Linked DNA regions of Homo sapiens. The protein of the gene in region 2 purifies or fractionates together with the protein of the main gene of each other region. This does not show direct contact. Each region holds a gene or a part of one and is shown on either strand. Other genes may lie near its edges.

Evidence for each region.
Region 1: the proteins of DNPEP (region 2) and SCAF8 purify together in Homo sapiens (affinity purification with mass spectrometry; 2 studies listed by BioGRID and IntAct, with this or other methods). This does not show direct contact.

Annotation. Positions count from the first base shown.
Region 1 is NC_000006.12:154,803,708-154,815,358, reverse strand, and holds part of SCAF8 (SR-related and CTD-associated factor 8), read right to left. Parts: intron 9,991-11,651; coding exon 9,873-9,990; intron 7,290-9,872; coding exon 7,158-7,289; intron 6,674-7,157; coding exon 6,561-6,673; intron 5,345-6,560; coding exon 5,151-5,344; intron 1-5,150. UniProt on the Homo sapiens protein: Anti-terminator protein required to prevent early mRNA termination during transcription. Together with SCAF4, acts by suppressing the use of early, alternative poly(A) sites, thereby preventing the accumulation of non-functional truncated proteins.
Region 2 is NC_000002.12:219,375,271-219,385,511, reverse strand, and holds part of DNPEP (aspartyl aminopeptidase), read left to right. Parts: coding exon 1-88; intron 89-1,068; coding exon 1,069-1,146; intron 1,147-2,297; coding exon 2,298-2,381; intron 2,382-3,372; coding exon 3,373-3,533; intron 3,534-3,927; coding exon 3,928-3,967; intron 3,968-4,075; coding exon 4,076-4,177; intron 4,178-10,241.

The DNA.
Region 1 (11,651 bases), on a different chromosome or scaffold from region 2:
TTCAAACCCACTTCTCACCGTAATCCCATTTGTGAACCTTTTATTTATTTATTTATTTTTTTGAGACGGAGTCTCACTCTGTCGCCCAGGCTGGAGTGCAGTGGCACAATCTCGGCTCACTGCAAGCTCCGCCTCCCAGGTTCATGCCATTCTCCTGCCTCAGTCTCCCGAGTAGCTAGGACTACAGGCGCCCGCCACCACACCCGGCTAATTTTTTGTATTTTTAGTAGAGACGGGGTTTCACCATGTTAGCCAGGATGGTCTCGATCTCCTGACCTCATGATCTGTCCGCCTCGGCCTCCCAAAGCGCTGGGATAACAGGCGTGAGCCACCGCACCCGGCCTGTGAACCTTTTAAGCGTCTTTCTGTACTGGAAGGATTAAGTGAATGTGTCTCCCTAATCAAGAGATAAATCTAAAAACAGCATCTTATCCTTAAGGAAACAATCCTTTCTGGGAAGATACAAAGGGAAAATGGCCAAATCAGAACCCCTTAACCCCTTGAAAGACTTAAAGATACTTAACTGTTGAAAGCCACATCCCCTTAACAAATATTAAACATGAGACACCTTGCCTACTTTCAGCTGTACAGTTCATGCCTCCACGAATGCCTCCTTTTACAGAAGACATTTATTTAAAAAATATTTATAGCTGACACCTTTGCAGAATTTTCATATGTTATATTTGGATTTATGTCAATGTCCACATTTCTGGCTACCTTTGATCTATAATAAGACAGGTTTCAGGCAGGTTTTACTCTATGGCTAATTTAGCCCCACATGAAGGTACCCTTGGCAAGATCACTACTGAGTGCCCTAGGCTTTTCAACCAGGTCTCTCCACTCTGGCTAGTCAGAACTCTAACATCTTCTAGACCTGTGTAAGCTTTAGGAATCACTTAGCTAACACAGAGTCCCTGGTCATTGTTCTTTCCCTGCAAGCTGTTTATCTCCTGTAAGTCTTACCCTATGCATATTCAATTTAATCTTCAACCAAAGTCTCAAGGAGCTCTGCATTAGGTTTGTTTTTCGTTTGTTTGTTTCTGAGACAGGTCTCACTCTGTTGCCCAGGCTGGAGTGCAGTGATGCGATCTCAGCTCTCTGCAACTTTCACCTCCCGGGCTCAAGTGATCCTCAGCCTCGCGAGTAACTGGGACTACAGGTGTGCGTCATCATGCTCAGCTAATTTTTGTTGTATCTTTAGCAGAGATGTGGTTTCACCACGTTGCCCAGGCTGGTCTCAAACTCCTGGTCTCAAGTAATTTCAAAGTGCTGGAATTACAGAGGCAAGCCACCATGCCTAGCCTTGTAACAGTTTTTTATTGCTGCTATAACAAAATAACATGAAGTTAGAATAAAACAAATATATTCTCTTATAGTTCTGAAGATCTACTATGGGTCAGCAGGTACGCATTCCCTCTAGAGGGCTCTAGGGGAGAATCTGTTTCCTTACCTTTGCTAGGTTCTACAAGCTGCCTGCCTTCCTTGGCTCATGGTCCCGTCCTTCGTCTTCAAAACCACCTCCACATTTCCCAAATTCTCTCTCCTTTCATTATCACATCACCTTTTCTCTTCAACGTACTTGCTTCCCTCTTATGTACCCGTGTAATTAAACTGGGCCTTCTGGATAATCCAGGTTCATCTCCCCACCTCATGATCTTTAATTTAAAAGGGCCTGAAAAGTCCCTTTTGCCATACAATGTAACATATTTAAAAATCCCAATGATTTAAATGTAGATACCTTTTAGGGGGCCATTATCCAATCTACCACAAAACCTTAACAGAAGTCTGGGGCTCTGTCATGGAAAAGATCCCCCCGCCCCTTTATTTTTGGAGACGAGGTCTTGCTCTGTCACCCAGGCTGAGGCTAGAGTGCAATGTCCTAATTATAGCTCACTGCAGCCTCCTACTCCCTGGATTTAAGGCCTCCTCCTGTCTCAGCCTCCACAAAAGCTGAAACTATAGGCACACCATCACCATGCTTGGCTAAGTTTTTATTTTTAGTACAGACATGGTTTTGCTCTTCCCAGGCTGGTCTCAAATTCCTGGCCTCAAGCAATCCTCCCGCCTTGGCCTTCCAAAGTACTGGGATTATAGGTTTGAGCCAGTATACTCAGCCTTAAGGATTCTTCTGTTTTTTGTTTTGTTTTGTTTTGATATAGGGTCTTGCTCTGTTCCTCAGGTTGGAGTGCAGTGGCACAATCATATCCCACTGCAGCTTCTCAACCTCCTAGGCACAAGTGATTCTCCCACCTCTTTCTTGAGTAGCTGGGACTACAGAAGTGTGAACCACCTTGCCGAACTAATTTTTTTTTTTTTTTTGGCGGTAGTGATGGCATCTCACTTTGTTGCTCAGGCTGGTCTTAAACTCCTGGCCTCAAACAATCTGCTGGCCTGTGCCTCCCAAAGTAGCTTGGATTACAGGTGTGAGCCGCTGCACCTGGCATTCTCTTTTTCCTCTTTATTACTGGTTCTGCATATTCCAGCTGCCTTAATCTCCCTGAACTCTGTTCTGTATTTCCCATCTCTTTCAATATTATCTCTCTACACATTTTTCCCATAGGAAACTCCATTATTTTCCCCAGAAAGCATTAATGATTCTTGTCATCCCATGCAGAAGGGACACTTGATTCCTGGAATGTTATTATTCACTGGTGCTTTATATCCCCTAGACTATTCACGAAAACCTTATGTTCTAAAATCCATGCTAAAGACCAATAAATCGTATGAAAACACTACCATATGTTTAAAATGTGTTAAGAAAGAATACAAACCACAGGAAATTGATACTGCTTTTGAATAAGGAGAGTTGTGAGGTAAACAATCAGAGATTATTTTTCACTGTATAGGCATACCTTGGAGCTACTGCAACTTTGGTTCCAGACCACCACAATAAAGCAGATATCACAGTAAGGTTAAGGCACATAAGTTGTTCTTCCCAGTGCACACAAAAGATATGTTTACACTACACTGTAACCTATTAAGTGTGCAACAGCATTATGTCTAAAAACAAAAATGTACATACCCTAATTTTAAAATACTTTTTGCAAAAAAAAAAAAAAAAAAAAAGCTGACATAGAGACAAAGTAGGCACCTGCTATTGGAAAAATAGTGCCAAGAGAGGTACTCAACATAGGGTGGTCACAACCCTTCAACCTATTTAAAAAAAAAAAAAAAAAAAAAAAGGCAGTATCTTCAAAGCACAATGGAGTGAAGTGCAATAAAACAAGGTATGCCTGTATTTGGTTATGCGTTTTTTATTCACGTGCTTTTTATTTTCTTTTTTGCTGTTTGTTGTGCCCATGAAAATAAAACAGAAATAAAAAATAAATTCCACAGTTAAAAACTATGTAAACAGCACACGTATTTACTGCGGCACTACTCACAGTAGCAAAGATTTGGAACCAATCCAAATGTCCATCAATGATAGACTGGATTAAGAAAATGTGGCACATATACACTATGGAATACTATGCAGCCATAAAAAAGGATGAGTTCATGTCCTTTGCAGGGACATGAATGAAGCTGGAAACTACCATTCTCAGCAAACTATCACAAGGACAGAAAACCAAACACTACATGTTCTCACTCATAGGTGAGAATTGAACAATGAGAACACTTGGACACAGGGCGGGGAGCATCACACACTGGGGTCTGTCAGGGGGATGGGGGGTTGGGGGAAGGGTAGCATTAGGAGAAATACCTAATGTAAACGACAAGTTGATGTGTGCAGCAAACCAACATAGTACATGTATACCTATGTAACAGACCTGCACTTTGTACACAAGTACCCTAGAACTTAAAGTATAATTTAAAAAAAAGAAAAAACTTAGATGACGGGTTGATGGGTGCAGCAAACCACCATGGCACCTGTGTACCTATGTAACAAACCTGCACGTTCAGCACATGTATCCCAGAACTTAAAGGAAAATGAAATAGAAAATTAAATGGTTAAAAAAAAAAAAACTGTGTAAACAGTGAAATCAACAACATGACAAATTAAGTGAGAAATTAAATGAGAGCGACTCCATATAAAATCCTTACTCTAATAATGGCAAATAAATAGATAATTCTGAACGTCTTAATGGTAATCATGCGAGAAAGCACAGTAGAGATTTTTGTGGTTAAACGTTTGACATTATTTCTTTTATCAGCCAGCACTAAAATGTTTAGATGTATACCATCACCCTAAGGGACAAACAAACTTCTAGAGCAAGGATAATCAATATTATCAGGTTGACACTAGCTCTCACAACCAGGTAAAATTCATGCAAGATAGCCAAGGCCTACAAGAACTCCCAAAACTTAGTAAGAAGATGGCTATTGCCTTTTATTATAGGCCTGGGTTTCCAAGACGCTCTAGTAGCACAAATTATACCAATTATTTTTCTAACTCCCTGGCAGAGGGAATTTACGTGGAAGTCTTCAGAAATTAGATAACACAATCAATGTTTAGCTCTTTGGAAAGAATGACAATTTGTTCGATTTTATGTACTTCTTTGCCCATATGTAAACTCTTAGTTCATCTTAAAAGTCATAACCCACCAAGAATACCCTAGGCAAAATTTGGCACTAATTAAAACTTATTTTGCTGTGCTTAACATTCCTACCAAGTGAACCCTCCCCACACCTGCTCCAAAACCAAACCCCACCACTACCGAATCTGTTCTAATCATACGTAATTGACTAACATGTAACCGTGCAAGGTTTGTACAGTAGGAATTATCCTGTAGTGCTAACCCATTAACATTATAATTACTTTAAAAATTAGATATAGCTAAGTATATGCTTCCTTTAATAATTATTCCTACAGACCTGGTGGCCATAATTGCTAAGAATACTATAGACAGAAGTCACTGTGTCCATGCTACAGATACCAGCCTAGTCTGCTTTTTCAGTCAATATGTATTTTCTAACTTGCATTTGAAAAACAAACAAAAAATCAACCCTCAATGACCTTGGTATTTGAATGGAATCTGTTCTTCCTTCTTCTTCTCTTCTCTATCATGTTACAAAAACCAGAGACATTACTCATTTACCAAACCACTTTTAACCTTAATCTGAAAATAAAATTTGGCTGAGAGACTTTGTAGCAGATAACTATTTTTTAAATATTAATTGAAACCAAAGCGTTGCAGATATATGTTACTTACCACTTAGTGTTTTAGATCTAATTGGAGGTAATCCCTTTTTCTGTCGTTCTTTCTCCCTTTCTCTGGCTCTCCTTTCACTTGAATACGACCGTGATGATTTCCTCTTTCTTTCTCTTGAGCGGGAGCGTGATCGCTTTCTGTGTTTACGCTTTCTAGAGCCAGACCGTGACCTAGACCTTCGTTTTCTTGGTGATCTACAAAAAATTTTCATTTTACTTCTAATGACAATGTTTTCTTTCTACCAAATCTGTCACTTCTAAGTGAGGGAAAAAACAATAACAAAAAAGTTGTCTTATATTTAGTGACAATATGTTAAAATATTCTGAAGTAAAATCAAGTCTCAAAAATGCATTTTACTTAAATCCGTGTGCTGCTTAGGTCCATATTAGTTGGCAATGATTCTGAGTATGGGTGACTATTCACAATGAAGAGGAAAAAGATTCTAGAAAGGGCCTCACTTTCTCTTAGTGCATTCCAACTCATTTTTCAAACAGAAGAACAGGAATGAAAGACCAAAGAAAATTAAAAGACCATTTAAGTGTCAGAGCATTAGGCCACTACATAATTCTGCTTAGTAGTTTCCAACTTATAAAATTTTATGGTGCTTGTAGAAGGTGACACTGAAACACTTTCTTTTTTGCCTGTCAACCACATGCCATTGAGCTCTCTTCAAAATGCTTAGTAAGATGCTGCTAATGACAAATGAAGATATCTTCAGCATTAAGATTGTTAATGCTTCAGGAAAATAATTCAGTGATACGCGGTGGGTTTAGAGAAAGTTGAACTGACAGGCTCTCATTTGCAATAGATAAATATAAAGAACTTTGTGACAAGAAAAAGAAATGACTGAAAAACTCATCAAACGTACTGCCCCTCTTACACCATTTACTGTTCAGATTTTCAGGGGCATTCATACGCAAAAAATAGGATACAAAAATGTTAAAGACTGATGTCTTTAAGTTAAGCTCATAAAGAAAACTGTTTCCTAACGGTTTGGTATTACAGTTAATGTTTATAAAAATAAATTTTGTAGTTTCATTTTTATAACCATTTTTGGTATCACTGTGAGATGAGTGGAATCCAGGAAATATGGCCTGACTTAACTGTTGTTCAGGGGCAACAATATTCTAAATTGGGTGTCATCATAATATTAACTAAAATAAAATATAATTCAAAATCCCTGTCTCATGATATGGCTGCCAATCTTATGTAAATTACTGAAATAAATAGCCACAGATATACCAATTAAAACAGAACAAAGGTTATCTTGTTTTTGGAATAACTTTTTTTCCGAGAGACTGAGAAAAAATATGTCATCCCAAGGAAACATTTCCTTTCATCCTGATGCAAAGAAATAAAGCCAACATTTTAAAGTTCACACACGGCTATTATTAAATATCATTGTAGAACCTTGAACGAGATCGTGAATGTGTTCTTGATCTTGAGCGAACCGCCACTTTCTTAGCTTCTTGTTCAAAGACCTCCTCTTCCACTCCATCTTGCCCTTCATCTATATCCATATCCTTGAAAGTCAAAAGAACAGCAAACAAACAGAAAGGCTGGTTGAGACAGAGTTATACATTGACAATTCTGTTTTTAAAAATATTGACGATGGGAGCATTAATGCCTAATACAGGGGTGTCCAATCTTTTGGCTTCCCTGGGCCCCATTAGAAGAAGTAATGTCTTTGGCCACACGTAAAATATACTAACACTAATGACAGCTGATAAGCTTAAAAAAAAAAAAAAATCGCAAAAACAAATCTCATATTGTTTTAAGAAAGTTTACAAATTTGTGTTGGGCTGCATTCAAAGCAGTTCTGGGCCATGTGCTTGGCCTAGGGGCCATGCTTAGGCCTTGGACAAGCTTGGCCTAATAGGTGAAACAATTACAAAGTGGAGCTTAAGTGTGGGAAAAATATATTCAGGGCACTGCTAGTATAAAATATTTTATGATTTCTTTAGCTACTTTTAGAAATTTATGACCCAGAAAAACATTTACTTTTACCTGTTGCTGAATATCTATGGAATCATCCAAATTGACTTCAGGTTCAAGAAAATGCTGCTGACTACTCCCTTGTGATGGTGACGCTGAATGCTCTGACCCAAAGGTTCCTTCCTGACTATCCTGAGGAGTGGCCTATTGAGAACATATACAAACACACAAAGATTGGGAGATACTTTTTGTTATGAATGAAAATGTAAACACAGCAAACATCACAATTACATGTTTAAAAACATGAGCCATACATAAAAGAAATTCCATGTTAAATCATTTATAAAGTAATCAATCCAAAATTAAACATTTGTATAAACTCATTTTTATATAAAAGCAGAGAACAGCTCCATAAAAGGAAGGGACTAAAATATTAAAATGGTAAAATCAAGTAAATTTTCAATTGTGAAAATATAAACTACAGAGGACTAATAAATAAATTATAGCATGAAAAATACATAATGGCAGTCAGTTAAATGAATCTAGATTTTCACTGATAATTGGCATTAATAAAAAATGCTACAAAGAAAAAACAGGCCAGGCACAGTGGCTCACGCCAGTAATCCCAGTACTTTGGGAGGCTGAGGCGGGTGGATCACGAGGTGAGAAGTTCAAGACCAGCCTGGCCAAGATGGTGAAACCCGTCTCTACTGAAAATACAGAAAAATTAGCAGGGCACGGTGGCGGATGCCTGTAATCCCAGCTACTCAGGAGGCTGAGGCAGAGAACTGCTTGAACCTGAGAGGCGGAGGTAGCAGTGAGCCGAGATCTGCATTCTAAATCTCTCATAGGTTTTATACTATCTACCTTATAAAAACAGTTCTAGTTTTACCACTCTCTTTTCTTCATTAGATTCATTTTTGAACAATGAGGTTTTTCAGAACTTCTATTCCTTTCAAAGGGATCTTATTATTCTAAGCTGTGAAATTTTGGAACTGATATATAGAGTAATTAACTAAGCCCAGAGTTCTCTCTTTTTGGTAGGTGAGATTCTTACAACAGACTCGCTCTCTCTCAAGTTTATTTTTACTTCAATAACATGGTGCTAATTACAAGCTTGTTAAGACTACTTGATTCTGCTAAGAGAGAGACCATTAAAAACATAAAGTACTACGATTACAGTGCTTCTGCTAAACCTTCTAAAATGAAACTATGACTAAAGCAATTCACAAAGTGTTACATTTATAGCTCAACAAATCTGTTGTTTGGATAAATTCTTCCATCACGACTACCTCCTGCCTCTCTTAGCAGTTCTGTGATTTTTGTATTATTACATCACTGACGAGCTGTTTGTTTTGAGTTACAACTTTGTTTTTTCTTTAAACAACATCTAAATGTTCTTAATTGTGTTCTATCTTCAACTTCTGGGTTCTCAGGCAGATACATTTGCTTGACATAAAATACTGCCCCTACTCTGGCCACTTATATCAGAATTGTTTCTTCAAAAAAAAGGTATGAAATTCCATTCTCATAATTCTAGGCATGAGTTCCAATGCAGCAAATATCATTAACATCCATTTTATATTACTGTTTGCATTAAAAAGTCAAGTTCAGACCCCAATGTCTCAAGTTTGCTATCTCTTCCATCTAAAATAACTGTTCCCCCCTCCATGCTCCTAGAATCCTTCAGCTGTACCTCTATGACAAAAATAAAGAATTCTGCCAGGTGTTCATACAGATGTACGTGCTCCATTAGAGAAGAGGTTACCTGATGCCACAACCTCATTTCTGTTCATCTCTGTATGTAACACTTGCCTAACAAGTAACACATACTCAAAAATATTTTGTGATATTTTTGTTAAACTCATTAATGCCAAAACTTTTTTAATATTAGGATGTATGCTGGGGAGGGAAAGGGGGTTTCCTAATACTTTTATTCTGAACAGTTTACATGCGTAACCATTTCTCACATACAGCAGAAAAAGGCTTTGAAATAAATTTAATCCTAGCTCTACAACTTAACATATTTTATCAGTTCTAAGGTGCAATATTTTGTCAAAGATTATCAAATTCGTAAGATGAACTTAAAGGATCCTTACAACTCAAAAGGATGTTACATTTAGTTATCGATGTTTTAAAATTCTTAGCTATGCATAAAATAACCGCACATCTTGAGTCAGATAATATATAACACTAGCTGTACACTGCTGCATGAGATGTTTAATCTCACCAAGCTTCCACTTCCTCTGGGATAAAATGGGAGTCATAATGCCCATCGCCTGAGGGTTAAATGTATACAAGCCTACCACATACCTAATAAAGCTCCTGCTACATGCTAACAGCAAATACGTTTTAAAAATTAAAGATAGCAATCTACATGGCCATCATCATTGTCACCATTAACATAATCATCAACTTGCTTGATAGGGAACAGAGAGAAAAACACGTTTAGTTTTAAGTGGTAATTCTGAAACCCCCTCCATCCTGTTCTCTACTTCCAGTACACTGAAATTAATTTCTACAATGTGCATTCATAAGTTACCAGAACACAATTTGATTACAGAAAAAACCATAAAGGTCCTGAAAAAAATGGTCTTACTAATAAGAGTTGAAAAAATATCACCATAACAAACTTTAGAAAGAAATAAAGTAGCTGGTAAAAGCTAAATAGTTGAGAAAATATTCTATTAAGACCAATTAAAAAAAAAAAAAGCCAACCCACAAAAATGCCAATTTATAGAATATAAATAGTAATAACTCTAAAGACCACAAGATGGGGTTATAAACCTTTTGAGGCTGTTGCTGCTCCAAGAGCTGCTGTCTGAGATGTTCTAGGTTTTGCTGTTGTAGTTGTTCTGCTATCTGATGAAAAATGGAATTGTTCACAGATTCTGAAACGTGAGAACTAAAAGGAAAAACAGGTGGAAACATATTTTAAAACCCACTAAAGATACTATGAAAATAACTGAGTATTCAAAGAAAACAAAAAAGTCAATTCAATAAAACATATTCTACTGCATGTTTTCTTTTGCAATTTTAATACTTAAAGTAGAATACTTGAGAACATTAATTATTAAAAGAAAAATACATTCTTCAATTGTACATCAATAGATGGATAACGTGTCAGAGATGCTCTGCTGAAGATCTGATATTACCATCTCAGGCTGTTAAATACATATAAATTACTGCTTTTTCATTAGAGCATATTAAGAAAATCTCAATATTTATAAAAAGTTTAAACATTTAAACATTGTTACTTTAACTCCTTCTCTTACTATGAGATAGAAAAACAGTCTATCAATCAGTATGTGTGAAATCTACCATTGTAATTGACCATAAAATTTATAAAACTAATATTCTTCCTTTAGAAAATCATATACATTATTAGGTATGTTAACAGAGACAGATACTGTTTAAATAAGAAAAAATAATAGTTTAACTATATTCTTGGAAATTCACACCTGGAATACACCTGGGATTCTGGGTGCCACAAGGTAAGACATTAACAATAAAAAGGGCATCCCAAAAGAGCCAAACAGGATGGTGAGAAGTCTTGAAACAGTTGGAAAAAAGTGTACTTCATCTGAAGCAAATAAACCTAAGGGGAAGAATGATACCTGTCTTCAAATAATGAAAAGCTACATCTCTAAAGATAGCGGAGTAAATTTGATTCCTTGCTTCAGAAAGCAAAACATGGGTCAGTGTATATTAATAGAAAATAAAGGAAACAGGATTCAGCTCAACAAAAGAACACACAATAATAACAATTAGTTAACTTCTCATTACAGAAAGCATTAAAATACTGGATAAATAAACTGTATCATCAGGACTGTTAAAGGAGATTCTTACATTGTTTAGGACACTGATCAACATGATTTCAAATGCTGCTTGCAAGTTTGCAATTCATAATCTAAAATACTAGTTTTTAAATTTTGTCAAGGGGAATCATTTTACTAAAATGATACATTTGTATCTAACATATTCTAAAATTATGTTTTTGTTTATTACCCCAATATATACAACTAATAACTTCTGTTTGAAACAAGAGACCCACAGACTTTCACCATTCATCCTTCTTCCATTCTCCCAACTTCTACCCCTGCCTCCTCCAACATCTTCCCCCTACTAGTCCATTCACATACCCTCACAGAACCTTGGGCACTGCAGAATTGTTTAGGGAAAAAAAAGTAACTGATTTAATAAAAACATACAACACATTTCTTTACAAAAAAAAAAATCCTCATAACTCCAATCCTTAATTCTCATTAGGTTGATGTGTTTCCACAATTTCATATGCTTTCTAGAAGTGGCCTCTAAGCACTAGAAGCAAGCTTCATTCCTAGTATTCCAACCACTCTTACAATTAAGTTAAATAACTTAAAGCCTAATATGGAAAATATTACAACCAGATTTACCAATATGTATCAATGTTCTTATAGGTAACTTTGATACAGTCTATTTGCAAAGATCTGAGAAAAGACTCAAAATAATACAAAGAGACAACAAGACATATCTCTACCACCTTTGTATAATGTTAGAGGTTCAACAGCTTGAAATAATAATCCC
Region 2 (10,241 bases):
CCTCATGTCCCTGCTCTGTGCCCATCTGGGGCTGAGCCCCAAGGACATAGTGGAGATGGAGCTCTGCCTTGCAGACACCCAGCCTGCGGTGAGGACTGGCTGTAGGAACCTGTGGGTGAAGGGCCTCCAGGATCCTGGCCACCCCTAGCCCGTCCTGCTGAAGCACCCATCACCTCCACCAAGCCCTCAGTAACTCTCATCCCCGTTTTTCCCAGTAGACACATCCCCCACTGCTTCTAGGGCGGTGGTTCTCAAAAAGACAAGTTCCCTACCCCAGACCTGCCCACTAGGACTATCTGGGAATTGGCCCTTTTTACAGATTCCCAAAGAGTTTCTTCTACAGGTGGGCCCTGTCTGCTTTGACCCACACTGACACTGAACTGCTTAGGGAAAGAGGCCTGGATGTGGCCATCTGTTCTCTGTCTCCCGGTTGCTGATGGTCAGAGATTGCTAAATCTTTGGATGCTGTGTCCTGCTTGAACACGTACTAAGTTTCTGTTTTTTGGCTGGTTTCCTCTGTTTACTTCTTTGGCCTTTTTGATGACAATTCAGCCCTTCCTTTTCTTGACCCACAGGAAGAGGTCAAGAGCTATTGGCCTCCACCCTTTTGTTCCTCAGCACCAACCCAGCCCCCTTCTCCAATCTCTGCTTGGTCCTGCCTAGCAAGGAATCCCAGCACTTTGGGAGGCTGAGGCGGGGGGAATCACATGAGGTCAGGAGTTCGAGACTAGCCTGACCACCATGGTGAAACCCTGTCTCTAATAAAAATACAAAAATTAGCTGGGCCTGGTGGTGCATGCCTGTAATCCCAGCTACTCAGGAGGCTGAGGCACGAGAATCCTTTGAACCCGGGAGGCGGAAGTTGCAGTGAGCCGAGATCGAGCCATTGCACTTCAGACTGGGCGACAAGAGCGAACCTTCATCTCAAAAAAAAGAAAAAACAAAATAGTGCCCTAAGCCAGGGGTCAGGGAGAGGTTGCGCAAGAAACCAAGGAGACCCTTGGGAGCAAAAGAAAGGTGAGTGGGGGTGGAGGGTTGAAGGTCGGGCTGACTGTCTTACCTCTCTAGGTCTTGGGTGGTGCCTATGATGAGTTCATCTTTGCTCCTCGGCTGGACAATCTGCACAGCTGCTTCTGTGCCCTGCAGGTGAGGAGCCGGGGCGCCCCAGGCAGCACATAACCACCAGCAGAGGTGGTATGTTTGGGGTCGGGGGAGCTGCCTAAAGCCCCAGCAGGTTGTGAGAGAGGGCCATTGTCTACCCGCTCAGTCTGCTGGTGCTGGATGGACCAGGAGGGGGCCCTAAATGTTGCAGCCTCAGCATCGCCACCTTTGGTCTCTGCCCTTGCACTATCAGGGTGTTGAGGCAAGAAGAAGGAGGAGAAGTTGTTTCAGGCACCATGGTCTCTTGTCCTAGCCTTGCTCCTGCTGCTTTTCCTGAAGTTAACAACCTCTGCCTCAGGGAAAGGCTTTATCATCCACAAGGCAGTATCATCCACCTCCTTCTGCTTCCTACGCCACTCCCCAGGCTTAAGACCCCAGCCTTCTCCCTGTTTCTTGGGATCTCAGTCAGGTAGCCTCTCTTCCTAGTCACCTTGATATTCCCCACCTTCTCTCCACCCTAGTCAGTTCCCTTTCTTTCTCTCCTCTTGCCCTTGATCTCCCTCTGCCTTTTTCTGCCTTTCCTTCCCTGTAATCCTGTGGCTGGAGATAGGCTTTGGGCTGTAATTGAGACCAGAGCTGGACCTGGGACCTGCATCTACTTCTGCAGGCAACCAGCCAGTCATGTCACCTTGATGGAGTCTGTCACCTCTTTGAACCTCAGTCTTTTCCCTGAGGCCAATCAGTTTATGTGATGTGTGTAGCCTTTTGGCTTTCCAGGACTCTCAGCTCTTCCTCTCTGTCCTCCACATCTTCTACTGCCTTTTGCATGGGAAGGTAGAGAACAACACCCAAAGGATGGTGTCTCCTGTCCCAGTTGAAAAGGTTTCTACCTAGCTATTGATCTGGCCAAAAAAAAAAAGAAAGAAAGAAAAAAAGAGAAAAAAAAGGTCCTCACCACACCTTAAAGGTTTCTACCTATGTAGCTATTTATTTGGCAAGAAAAAAAAGGTCCCCACCACACCCTCTGCCAGGCAGTGCCCTAATTGATAAAAGTCATGGCCATGGAAGGCAGACAGGGGAATGTGCACACCCAAGGTGCTGGTGGATGGGGGAGCGTGCACACCCAAGGTGCTGGTGGGCTGAGTTCCAGCAGAAGCAGGTTGGAGATGATGCTCTCATTTCCTTCCCTGAACCAGGCCTTGATAGATTCCTGTGCAGGCCCTGGCTCCCTGGCCACAGAGCCTCACGTGCGCATGGTCACACTCTATGACAACGAAGAGGTACGTGGAGGGTTCTGGGGAGGGTCACCTCTGCGGAGTCTTCCACAGCCAACTTGTTGTGCCAGGCATCCACCGTGAGCCAGGGCTCTTCTGGGGGCCCCAAGACAGGGGAGATGCTGCCTGTGCCTCCTTAGCACTTGGTGTCTCCTCTGACTCAACATAGATCTGCTTATTCGAGGGTGACCGTCTCTCCTGTATCTCTCTTTGTGCCACATGGTGAGCTTCTTCCTTTAGGACAGGGACTCTACCCAGCCCATCCTCGTAGCCCCAGGGCTCAGCACAGAGTAGGTCCTCATGATGCCTGCGTGTGTGAGGCTGCAGTCTCAGCTGCATAACAGAGCTTGAACAGCTAGTGCTCTCTCATGTAACAACCCAGGTCAGAGTTAGCAGTTTAGGAGGGGTCCCTGCCGTCCTGAACACATGACTTCCATTTCAGGATTCAGGGTGGCCGTTCCAGCTCTGGCCATCATGTCTACACTGAGTTAGTAGGAAGGGAAGAGAGGGCAAAGGGGCAGTAGACACCCCCTGGCTTTAAGGGCATGATCCAGAAGTGACATTCATCACTGCTTACATTCCACAGAACTTAGCTGCAGGGGAGCCTGGAAATGTCATCTCTAGCTGGGTAGTTAAGTGCTTAGCTACAACTTGGGTGTTCTAAAAGATATCATGGACAGTTAGCAGTCTCTGTCATACACATAAAAGAAAATTGACCAGTGTGGTGGGGCACCTGTGCTGAGCCCCAGATGTGAGGGTCACGAGAGGAGGAAGGGGAGCAGTGCAGGAAACCCACCAGTACTGTTAAGAATGTGAGTTAGTTTGGTCTCAGCCCACTGTCTGGTGTTCAGTGACGACCCCAGGTTAGGGGTGTTGCTAAGAACACCCAGTGACTCAGTGGGGTTTTGGGCCAGTTGGGCAATGGGCCCCTCTCACTGGCTTCCAAGATCAGGCCCCTAAGCCCAGATTCCCAGAGTCAGGACTCTACTGTCGCCAGGTGGGGTCTGAGAGTGCACAGGGAGCACAGTCACTGCTGACAGAGCTGGTGCTGCGGCGGATCTCAGCCTCGTGCCAGCACCCGACAGCCTTCGAGGAAGCCATACCCAAGTCCTTCATGATCAGCGCAGACATGGCCCATGCTGTGCATCCCAACTACCTGTGAGTCTCTAGTGCCAGTCACACAGTCTTCACATAGCTGGAGACCCAAGCATAACCTGCCTTGAGGCTCTGCCTTGGCCCCAGCCTCTTCCTTTCTCCCTTCTTCATTCTGCCGGGAGGTTCACGGGCACTTCCTTTTCACTACTGCGAGACCAACTTGGTCAAAGTCATGCAATGCCTAACCCAGGTGTGTGGAATACACCTTTGTCTACAAACTTGTTTCCATCTATTGCTAGAGGCTGCCCGGAACCCTGTGTGTGGAATGACTCTGAAGTCCCACTGGGCTGGGCGGGAAAGAGTGGTGATCTATTAGTGATGTCTGCCATGGGAGGGTGGTGAGTGTCGACAGGCCTGCTCCTGTTTGCTATGTCTGGCCCTTATCTGTCTCTTACAGGGACAAGCATGAGGAGAACCACCGGCCTTTATTCCACAAGGTGAGACGTGCCATTTCTCCCTAGGGACTTGGAGGTCTGGCTGTTCCGAGCGCCGACTCATTCCCTTTGGGCCTGTCATTACCTCTGCCTCACCTTGACTCTCCCCAGGGCCCCGTGATCAAGGTGAACAGCAAGCAACGCTATGCTTCAAACGCGGTGTCAGAGGCCCTGATCCGAGAGGTGGCCAACAAAGTCAAGGTCCCCCTGCAGGTGAGGGTGGGCCCTGCCTGGGAAGGTGTGATGGAGGGAGCTTGGTGGGGGCACAAACAGATGGGCCCCCCATGAACAGGGAACCTGGTAGATGGCCTTGAGTGGAGGGGGGTCCCAGTAGAGTGAGAAAAGCAGGGATTTTGGATACAGCTGGATTCCATGCTGGCTCTGCTGCAGTGCTAGCTGTGTGACCTTGGACTAGTCTCCTAACCTTTCTGAGTCTCAGTTTCCACATCTGTAGAATAGGGGTGATAGTGATGCCTACTTTGCTGGATTTCTATGAAGACTGAAGGTACAGTGTGCTCCTGGCACATGGTAGGCCTGTCTTTCCCTGCAGCACCCCCACTTCCCCTGTGTCTCCTACACACCCTGGGGGCTTCCACAGGGAAAGTTCAGGGCTGGGGAGTATGGAACTCCAACTACTCATTTTCTCTCTTGCCTGAGAAATTAGACATCTAGTCCTTTCTCCTCAGTGTGTGTGTGTGTGTGTGTACATATATATGTTGTATACATGTATGTATATAACACATGACAGTATTGTGTATACACATATACACACATATATACTGTCATGCATTGCTTAACAACAGGGATACATTCTGGGAAATGGCATCATTAGGCAATTTTGTCATTGTGTGAGCATCATGGAGTATATGTACACAAACCTAGACGGACAGCCTGCTGCACACCTAGGTTGTGTGGTGTAGCCCATTGCTCCTAGGCTACAAACCTGTACGGCTTCTTACTGTGCTGAAAACTGTAGGTAACTGTAACAAAATGGTCAGTGTATCTAAACATAGAAAAGGTACAGAAGGCCAGGCGTGTTGGCTCACACCTGTAATCCCAGCATTTTGGGAGGCCAAGACAGGCAGATCACTTGAGGTCAGGAGTTCAAAACCAGCCTGGCCAACATGGTGAAACCCCATCCTACCAAAAAATACAAAAATTAGGCAGGCGGAGTGGTGCATGCCTGTAGTCCCAGCTACTTGGGAGGCCTTCCCTACTTGGGAAGGATCTCTTGAGCCCGGGAGGTGGACGTTGCAGTGAGCCGAGATCGTGCCATTGCACTCCAGCCTGGGCGACAGAGTGAGACCCTGTCTCCAAAAAAACAAAACCAAAAAAAAAAAAAAAAGAAAAGAAAAAGAAAAGTTACAGGAAGCATATGGTATAAAAGATTTAAAATGGTCCACCTGTATAGGGCACTTAGGAATGGAGCTTACGGCACTCGAAGTTGCCCTGGGTGAGTGGTGAGTTAATGTGAAGGCCTAGGACATTACTGTACACTATTGCAGACTTTATCAATGCCGGACACTTAGGCTACACTACATTTATTTTGAAAATTGTATTTCTTCAACAATAAATTAGTTTACTGTAACTTTTTAACTTTATTTATTTATTTATTTATTTATTTATTTTTGAGATGGAGTCTCACTCTGTCACCCAGGCTGGAGTGCAGTGGCACGATCTCGGCTCACTGCAACCTCTGCCTCCCAGGTTCAAGCGATTCTGCCTCAGCCTCCTGAATAGCTGGGATTACAGGCACGCACCACCATGCCTGGCTAATTTTTGTATTTTTAGTAGAGACGGGGTTTCACCATGTTGGTCAGGCTGGTCTCGAACTCCTGACCTTGTGATCCGCCCGCCTCGGCCTCCCAAAGTGTTGGGATTACAGGTGTGAGCCACTGCACCCGGCCAACTTTTTTACTTTATAACCTTCCATTTTTAAAATTTTTGACTCCTTTGTAACAACAGTTGGCTTAAAACACAAACACATAGTACAGCTATTCAAAAGTATTTTCTTTTTTGTATCCTTATTCTGTAAGCTTTTTTCTATTTTTAAAATTTTTCGTTATTTTTAAAATTTTTAAACTTTTTGGTTAAAAACCAAGACACAAACATACACATTAGCCTAGGCCTATACAGGGTCAGGATTATCAATGTCCCTGTCTTCCACCTCCACATCTTGTCTCACTGGAAGGTCTTCAGGGAGAGTGACATGCAGGGAGCTGCTATCTACCATGATAACAATGTGCTCCTAAAGGACCTGCCTGAGGCTGTTTTACAGTTAACTTTTTTTTTTTTTTCTAATAAGTAGGAGTACATTCTAAAATAACAGTAGGCTGGGCATCGTGGCTCATGCCTGTAATCCCAGCACTTTGGGAGGCCGAGGCGGGTGGATCACTTGAGGTCAGGAGTTCAAAACCAGCTGGCCAACATGGTGAAACCCCGTCTCTACTGAAAATACAAAAATTATCTGGGCATGGTGGTGTGCGCCTGTAATCCCAGCTACTCAGGAGGCTGAGACAGGAGAATCGCTTGAACCCAAGAGGCAGAGGTTGCAGGGAGCCAAGATGGTGCCATTGCACTCCAGCCTGGGCGACAAGAGTGAAACTCCATCTCAAAATAAATAAATAACAATAAAAAGCATAATATAGTAAACACATAAACCATAACATAGTCATTTATTATTCTTAGGTATTGCATACTGTACATAATTGCACGTGTTATGCTTTTATACGACTGGCAGTAGATTTATTTACGCCGGCATCGCCACAAACAAGTGAGTCATGCATTATGCCACAACATCGCAACAGCTGTGATGTCACTAGGCGACAGGAATTTTTCAGCTCCATTATAATCTTACGGGACCACTGTCATATGTAGTCTATCTTTGACTGAAATGTCACCATGTAGTGCATGACTGTCTATTTCTATATTTATCTGTCTACCTCTCTATATCAGGGACTCAGGCATGGGCGGTCCAGTGACAATCATAGCAGGTGTAGAACCGTGGTATCCTGACTCCCAGCCCAGGGCTCTTTCTGCTGCACAGTGTTCACTCTTCCTTTCGGAAAGCTGAATTGTTCTGCCCCCAGGAAGCCTTCTCTGAGGACGTGATATTTGAGCTGAGACCTAACCACTGAGAAATAGGCAGCTATGGGAGGGTCCCAGCCAGAGGGCACAAGTAGAAAGGCCCCAAGGGGGGCCAGGAATGAGCTCGTCTTTTAGGAGGAGAGAAAGGCAGGATGGTAGAGCCAGGATGAGAGCAGGAGAGGGTTAGGGGAGAGGCCCAGCTCAGTGATGATACAGGAATACCTAGGCCATGGAAGGACATTTCAATTTTATTCTAAGGCAGTGAGAAGACATTGGGAGATTTTTCTTTAATAATTTACAGCAGAAGTAGGACACATGTATTTTAGAAAATTAGAAAATACAGATAGAGATGAGAAAATAAAACACTAATCTGCAGAAATTTGGTATAGTCTTCCAGATTTTTTTCTATGCATAAACTTCATATACACTTTTTTAAAATGATATTATATTGGATATATTTTTGTTGCCTCTTTTCACTCAGTCATCTTCACCTTTCTATTTGAGTTTGGTTTTTTTTTTTAATGTTTTTTTAAAATTAGAAACAGGGTCTTGCTTTGTCTCCCAGGCTGGAGTGCAGTGGCATGATCATAGCTCACTGCACCCTCAAACTCCTGAGCTCAGAAGATCTTCCTGCCTCAGTCTCCCAAGTAGCTGGGACTACAGATGCATGCCACCATGCTGGCTAATTTTCTATTTTTAGTAAAAATGGGGTTCTTGCTATGTTGCCCAGGCTGGTCTTGAACTCCTGGCTTCAAGCAGTCCTCCCACCTTGGCCTCCCAAAGTGCTAGGATTACAGGCATGAGCCACCATTCCCAACCCCATTTCAGGAAATTGTTGTTTCAGTAAACTTGTACCTCATCTAATGCACAGATCACTTTCCGTTTTCCCCAGTTATCCTCAAAATATTTTTTTTACAGGTATTTGGCCCACCCTAGTATCCAACTCAGGACAATGCGTTATATTTGGCTGATATGTTGCTTAAATGTCTTCCAGTGTAGCACAGTTCCCCCCACCCCTTTTTAAATAGCATTGGCTTATTCAAGAAACTTCTGGATATGTCTCCTTGCTGCCCCATGGTGTCATTTAGCTTGTCTGTAAGCCCCGTATTTCCTATCAACTGGAATTTCTAAAGACTTGATGGATTCAAGTTAAACTTTTTTTTTTTTTTTTTTTTTTTTTTTTGACAGAGTGAGAGTTTCACTCTGTCGCCCAGGCTGGAGTCTAATGGCGTGATCTCGGCTCATTGCAACCTCCGCCTCCCTGGTTCAAGTGATCCTTCTGTCTCAGCCTCCAAAGTAGCTGGGATTACAAGTGTGCACCACGATGCCCAGCTAATTTTTGTATTTTTAGTAGAGACAGGGTTTCACCATATTGGCCAGACTGGTCTTGAACTCCTGACCTCAAGTGGTCCGCCCACCTCAGCCTCCCAAAGTGCTGGGATTACAGGTGTGAGCCACCGTGCCTAGCCTCAAGTTAAACATTTTGGGCTAGAAGACATGGCTGGTGTATTCATATGGCATCACACACATGATATCTGGGTGGGCCACCCTTAGCCTTGCAAAGATTGACCACTGGACCAGGAATGGCCTCTTATCCTTTCATTATATAGTGCTTTTCCCCTATTGACCTGACAGTGACCCATACAAGTGATGAGTTCCCTATTAACCAGATACCTAATGGTTTTAACACTTACAATAATCCTTGTCTAAATCAGTAATTTCATTAGAATTTACCGAAAAATGCCCGCTTCCCCTGAATTCTTTCAGTCTTCCATTCTTCTGTGAAGTGGAACTTCTTCCCTCCAATCAACTAGGGTTCTTTGGTTATCATGGAATATCATTCCTATTGATTGGAAAGCAGGATAAATGCTAATTCTTTCTGTTATCCACTTTTCAAGGTGAAATGTCGTCTCAAATAGTGACAAAGAAAGATTTTTCCTTTTCCTTTTTTTTTCTTTTTCTTTTTTTTTTTTTAGACAGGGTCTCGCTCTGTTGCCCAGGCTGGAGTGTAGTGTCGCAATCTCAGCTCACTGCAACCTCCTCCCCACAGGTGCAAGAGAGTCTCATACCTCAGCCACCTGAGTAGCTGGGATTACAGGCATGCACCACCATGCCCGGCTGTTTCTTGTATTTTTAATAGATACAGGGTTTCACCATGTTGGCCAGGCTGGTCTTGAACTCCTGGAATCATGTGATCTGCACACCTTGGCCTCCCAAAGTGCTGGGATTACAGGCGTGAGCCAGCACACCTGGCCTGCTTTTCCCTTTCTGACTATCTTAGAATCATGGAATTTCATTTATTCAGTGTCCTCTATAATTATTATATTTGATTTGTGAATTGCCATGGCTTTGACCAGTGGGAGCCCCTTCAGCATAACTCCTGTGCCCTTTGACTCTTGGAAGTCTCCTTGCTTTTTGGCACAACAAAAATTGTAGACATGTCTTGTTCATTTCGCCCCCCAGACTTGGTAGTTTTTGGCAAGCAGTGGTATTAGAGACCATAGCCTGGCACTGCAAGTGTTCATTGTTCTTGGGGGAGGGGACGGTGCTTTGGGTCCATTTCCATGGACATAGCAAGAAAAAAGTACATATTTTAAAAATCATGAAGCCAGGTGTGGTAGCTCAGGCCTGTAATCCCAGCACTTTGAGAGGTAGTGGATCACTTGAAGTCAGAAGTTCGAGAACAGCCTGGCCAATATGGCAAAATCTCGTCTCTACTGAAAATACAATAATTAGCTGAACGTGGTGGTGCGTGCCTGTAATCCCAGCTACTTGGGAGGCTGAGACAGGAGAATCGCTTGAACCCAGGAGGCAGAGGTTGCAGCGAGCTGAGATTGCGCCACTGCACTCCAGCCTGGGCATCGCAGGGAGACTCCATCTCAAAATAAATAAATAAAATAAAATAAAAATTTTTAAATAAAAATCATGAGTTAATACTGTAATTCTTATTCATAAAATTATTCTTATTTAGTTAAATAGTTACTACCTATTTGATTTTGTAATTCTGTTTTCTCTTACACTGAAAACCTTGATATCTAGCATCATATTTTCATTTTCTTATTTTTTTACCATAATATAAAGAAAATCATTTCAAAATGTCAGTAGCAATATTTTTAAAGACACTGATACCACTGAGTGATTTTTTTCTGTGAGTGTGGATATTAAGCAAGAGGGTGACAAGGATGGATAC